Linked DNA regions of Homo sapiens: region 2 is linked to region 1. Evidence: fine-mapped expression QTL. A gene starts in region 1. The other region holds a variant in brackets. All regions are shown on one strand. Distances are between the middles of the regions. Region 1 holds the start of CES2 (carboxylesterase 2). Region 2 overlaps RANBP10 (RAN binding protein 10).

Evidence for each region. PIP is the estimated chance that this variant, and not a neighbour inherited with it, causes the effect.
Region 2: its variant is the best candidate, but not a certain one, in a credible set for the expression of CES2 in visceral fat (GTEx, PIP 0.59).

Annotation. Positions count from the first base shown.
Region 1 is chr16:66,933,996-66,936,901 of GRCh38, forward strand. CES2 (carboxylesterase 2) reads left to right here and starts at 1,521. Exons shown (of 12, transcript NM_001365405.1): 1 at 1,521-1,716. The coding sequence starts at 1,641. CIAO2B (cytosolic iron-sulfur assembly component 2B) reads right to left here and starts at 407. Exons shown (of 5, transcript NM_016062.4): 1 at 228-407; 2 at 1-71. The coding sequence starts at 369. RefSeq lists enhancers at 13-62, 93-292, 1,131-1,743.
Region 2 is chr16:67,796,159-67,799,064 of GRCh38, forward strand. The region is part of intron 2 of RANBP10 (RAN binding protein 10); the gene reads right to left. Among named protein-coding and RNA genes, the nearest start is that of RANBP10, 8.9 kb to the right of the region's middle. The variant G/A (reference allele first, on the strand shown) is at 1,585.

The DNA of each region.
Region 1 (2,906 bases):
CACCTGCTCTACTACGTTCAACTCCTCTAGCGTCAGTGGATGCTCCGGGTCATTGATGGAGCGAATCAGATGTGGGAAGTGAAGGAAAAGGGACTCTGCGCCCTTGCCCACTTAGAACCCTCTGCCAGGAACGCCCTGCTGGGATGCGGCTCCACCAGCTGCTCGATATCACTGCTCCCCCCACCGCAAGCCCCCGGAACCCGCCCGCGCCCAGCAGCGGCGGATATCGAAGATCTCGCGTGCGTCGATGCTGTCGGGAACCTGCTCGTCCTCCTCGCCTGCCGTCACAGGCCGCTCCCCAGAGCGCTGGTAGATGAGGGGGTTGGCATTCTCCAGGAGGCCGCCGCCGACCCCGCCGCCGCCTACCATCGCGGAACCACCACCGCTGATCCTAGCAGGCGTGCGCTTCCGCTCCAACCCGCGCACTTCCGGAGAACGGGAAGGGGGCGTGGCGTGGCGACGGAGTCGCGCGAGGGACACGCCGCGTTGTGGGTTCTCGGCCTGAGGTGCGAGAGAAGCGGTGACCGCGGCCCTGGCTGCTCGGACCCGGGAACATGATGGTCGCTGGAGCAGAAGGCGCTGAGAAGGGACCACGGCGGCGCTGGGTCGTGCGAGCCAGTAGCGGGCTGAAACGTAGAGGCCAGAACCAGGTCTCAGGGGGCACTAAAGGCGGTCGGAGGTAATCCCCACACCGCTTCCTCCTGGAAGTCAGGCTGGCCGGGAGCTCCCGTATCCAGGACGGTTGGTCGCCTCTGGCCTGGCAGGGATCCTAGTGTCTCGGGACCTCCCGGTGACGCGCCTGCCTCCCCTGCTGCACCATAGGCCCGGGAGTACGGCGTCCCCACAGCTTGGACCGGCAGGGGCTCGTGAAATGTTTGTCAAGTGGATAAATGACCATGGCCGTGGTCTCCGCGGGAGGTGAGGAAACTGAAAGCCACCGAGGAAAAGGGGGGCGCTCCTTAAGAAGTGCCGCGGTCACGTGTACGTTTCAAAAGAATGGCGTGACTGAGTAGGGAGGGGACCGCGGAGACCCTCAGACCCTGGACTGTAAGGAGATGAGGGGCCGTGAAGGGGAACCCAGGAAACTGAGTCCTGAAAGCAAGGAGGAACTTCCAGAATGAAGGGCGCCGACACTCCTTCCTGCCTTTGCTCAAGCGGTTCCTTCACCCCGATCAAGTTCCTTCCCATTTCTCCATCTGGGGGATCCTGAACGTGCACATCCTCAGAGAAGCCCTCCTGGGGTCTCCAATTCTAGTTTATTGCCCCCTCCTATCGATCCCCCAGCGCGCTCATCGGGCCTGTGGACAAGGACAGGTTTGAAGAGAGGATTCCCTGGATCGCGGAAGGGCTGCAGGAATGGCACAGCCCCTTCCGAGGATGCCAAAGGAGCCCGGGCAAAGGAAAGTGGCCGTGCCCGGGCCTGCCTACCACTAGATCCCCACCCACCTATGACTGCTCAGTCCCGCTCTCCTACCACACCCACCTTTCCCGGCCCAAGCCAGCGCACCCCGCTGACTCCCTGCCCAGTCCAAACTCCAAGGCTGGGCAAGGCACTGATCCACTGCTGGACAGACCCGGGGCAGCCTCTGGGTGAACAGCAGCGTGTCCGCCGGCAGCGAACCGAGACCAGCGAGCCGACCATGCGGCTGCACAGACTTCGTGCGCGGCTGAGCGCGGTGGCCTGTGGGCTTCTGCTGCTTCTTGTCCGGGGCCAGGGTGAGGCTCCCTCGGAGGGGCGACAGGGACCGGGCTCAGATCTGCCAAATGCTGCGGAGGCAGAACCTGACAGTGCGGGAGGGCAGGCGCCTGGGAGGTAGGAGCTGGTGGAGATGACAGCGTGGAACTCGTGAGCCCCACGCAACGCCTCCCCGCCGCCCAAGGTGGGCTCCTAGAAGCACAGAAAGGGTCGGGCTGGGGGACACCACGGCAAGGAACCAGCGGAGTACAGGGGCCCCAGGAGCGCCGGGACATGCCAGGCCGGGTAGGCAGCCTGGGGTCGGAGTGGGTGAGGGATTGGGGTGTGGGGATTCAGTCCATTTCCCTCTTATGATTGTGGCTGTAGCGGGTGCTGCCGGCCGGTAATAACAGTAATAGCTTCTGGCAGCATCTGGCTCTCAGTGTGTGGCGTCCTTGGCCAGGGGGGATGCCCTGAGCCCTCCAAAGGGGCCTCAGACAAGGATAGTGGTCCTTGGGGAACAGAAGCCCCCAGGCGCCAAATCCTAAAGCAGATCTAAGAGGCCACAGTGGCTGGGTGCGATTGGCTCACTCCTTTAATCCCACCACTTTAGAAGGCCAAGGGAGAGTATCGCTTGTGCCCAGGAGTTGGAGGCCAGCCTGGACAACATAGTGAGACTCGGAGTGTACAAAAAATTGAAAGAAATTAGTGGGCTGTGGTGGTCTGTGACCTGTAGTCCCAGCTACTTGGGAGGCTGAGGTGGGAGATCACTTTAGTAGGGGAGGTTGAGGCTGCAGTGAGCCTTCATCCCACTACTGCACTCCAGCCTGGGTGAAAAAGCAAAAATCTGTCTCCAGAAACAAGAACCAAAGAGCTCGTGGTGTCCCTCATGCCATTTACCTCATCCTGGGCAAGGGCACAACTTGGCTTCCAGGGCAAAGGTGAAGGCTCTGTGTGCCTGCCAGGCTTCTCCAGGCCCTTATCAGAAGCTGGGGGAGTGTTTCGGCCTTTGGTCCTCTCACCCGAAACTCTCCTAAGTGTATGATCTGTCTCTTCCAACCCTTCCCCAATTTAATTTGCGCAGGTGGAGTCCATACTCCCCCCGCCCCATGGTGCACTGCTGCAGGGCTTCCTCCCGTGCCTGCCCTTGACCACATTCTAGAGTTCACCAGGAGCCCAGCAGGAAGATCTGCCTGGCCTCACAGATGGCTACCTTTTAAAATATTTTGGG
Region 2 (2,906 bases), 860 kb after region 1:
GCCTGCCTCGGCCTCCCAAAGCGCTGGGATTACAGGTGTGAGCCACAGCACACAGCCTATTTTGATTTTTATAAAAGTAAATATAACTACTGACAAACTACTGGTGCAAGTTGTTATAAAAACAGGGCATTCCATTTTTTTAAAAAGTCCATGCCAATTTCAGATACATGGCTTTATAAACTGGGTTAGAATCAGTTCTACTCAGCAATCCAACCCCTCTGTTTCTTTCCTCTTGGTTCAGCTCTGCCTTGGGACTCTCCTTTAGAAGAAATAAGCTGAGCCCTCAACCATCTGGGCCTCTATCCACTTATCTTCCAACCACCTCCACCCTGAGGGCTAGTAGATTTCATCTCATGATGAAACTCTGACCAGTAAATTATAGCTGCCTGATGTGCTGTGCATTGAGAAAAATTCTGGGCTCTGTCTGGACAAGAACAAGTGCTACTGTCAATCAGTAATGTTGGTCATAGAAGCTGAGGGTATTGTGGGGTATTGGGGCCTTCACACTTGCCACCCCTGACCTAAACTAAACTCCCCTGAAACCCCAAGCATCTCTAATTCCAAGAGTTAAGTAACAAGAAATGGCATAAGAGGGGTGCCAAGGGCTTCCCCAGTCCCCTCCCAACTTCCCTATATAGTACAGAGCATCTTGTTCTGGCCCCTTCATGACAGAAGGGCTAGGCTCTGTTCCACCACCAAGTCACAACACCAACGATCCTAGAATTACAAAGACATTTTATATGGATTTTGAACAGAATGGAGAGGCAGAGGAACATCTTTGCATTTAGACATAATTATCCATCCCTCTTCCACTGATGAGTCCCTTCTTTCCAACTTGACCCGACCACACAAGACCCACTCTGGAGCCCTTTATTCCTTCCCAATGGTCCCATAATAGGAATGGCACACAGTGCCTGCCACATGGGGCTGCTAGGTTCATCCTCCTGTGCTCTGGCCTGATGAGCTTCTGCTTCTCTTCTAACAAGGAATCTCCCTTACACCATGACCCATACAGGGAAAAGACCAAAAGTTCCAGAGAACAAAAACACCATCAAGGCAGAAAGGCAGGAGGTGAAGTGAATTCTAGGAATTTCTCTAAAAGCTAATCCTTGACCAAGAAGGCCCCAGCTATAAAGAAGGCAACGACGCTCCCCACTCTCAGCTCACAGTTGGAGCCTGGGTAGCAACATACAGTGAGGAGGGAGGCCCTACCAGAAAAGTGGCCACAGGCCAGGTGTGGTGGCTCATGCCTGTAATCCCAGCACTTTGGGAGGCTGAGGCAGGAGGATTGATTGAGCGTAGGAGTTCCAGACCAGCCTAGGAAATATAGCAAGACCCTGTCTCTACAAAAAATTTAAAAATTAGCCAGGGCTGGGGATGGTGGCTCACACCCGTAGTCCCAGCACTTTGGGAGGCTGAGGTGGGCAGATCATTTGAGGTCAGGAGTTCAAAACCAGCCTGGCCAACATGGCAAAACCTCGTCTCTACTAAAAATACCAAAATTAGCCAGGTGTCATGGCACACGCCTGTAATCCCAGCTACTCAGGAGGCTGAGGCATGAGAATCACTTGAACCCTGGGAGGC[G/A]GAGGTTGCAGTGAGCCGAGATCACTCCACTGGACTCCAACCTGGGTGACAGAGCAACACTCTGTCTCAAAAAATAAATTAAATAAATAAAATAAAAATTAGCCAGGCATGATGGCATGCACCTGTAGTCCCAGCTACTCAAGAGTCTCAGGTAGGAAGATTGCTTGAACTCAGGAGGTCGAGGCTGCAGTGAGCCATGATTGTGCCACTGCACTCCAGCCTGAGTGACAGAGAGAGACCCTCTCTCAAAAAAAAAAAAAAAAAAAAAAGCAAAGAACAGTGGCCACCATCTAGACTCCAGTTCTCTTACCCCGTGTTCCAGAACCCAAACATCCTACCCTGTGTTCCAGAACCCAAACATTCCATGTCTCCACAAATAGCACAATGTGTTACCTGAGTAGAAGTGCAGCCCAAAGCTCAGCATCTGCCTGTAAGACCATCAACTCCGGGGGGCAGTAAGGGAAAATGGGGCACAACCACGGCCTGTACCTACCTTGGGCAAGGACAGCACCTTCTTATCAGGGCGGGCAGGACAACGCCTTCCCCAGATGACATATGAGCACCAAAGTTCTCAACAGCACTGTACAATGCATGTAGACTGGAACTTGGTGAGGGGATCCAGGGTGAGAAGCCAGCCACAGCTGTCTCTCAGCTGGAAGGGCCTAAGCTTAGATGGTCCTCCACACCAGGAATGTGGCAGGTGAGATCTTAATCAAGATATCTTAATTAACAGTGGCTCTCTAGGTCTCCATGGAAAATCACTTTGGCTGATTCTGGCTCACCAGAGGAGATGCTTGGGTATAAAACATGGGGCATTACTGTCTTTCAGATGGGAGCTGGCAAAACCAAAATACCAGAACTCCAGCACAAGCAGAGTCCTCTCACCTCTGAGAAGCCTCCTGGCTACCAGTCTTTCACACCCCATCCCTTCATCTCTTCATACCAAAGGAACAGCCAAGAGAAAAAAAGACAACCGCTATGAGAAAACCATGCTAGAGCCAAAGACCTAAAGTCACTGGCCCACCCTGGACAAGGGCTCTTGGCCAGAGAAGCCTGGCTGAACCAGACTGGCAGAGTCTCTTCTTTTCTTCACTCTCAAAAGCATGGGTAGATCCACAGCCCCCCACACTGCTACTGCCCTCAAGATACAGCCCACGCTCCCTGGCCACAGCATACAAGGTATTTTCTTTTTTATTTTTTTAAGACAGAGTCTCACTCTGTCACCCAGGCTGGAGAGCAGTGGCGTGATCTCGGCTCACTGCAACCTTCACCTCCCAGGTTCGAGTGATTCTCCTGCCTCAGCCTCCCAAGTAGCTGGGATT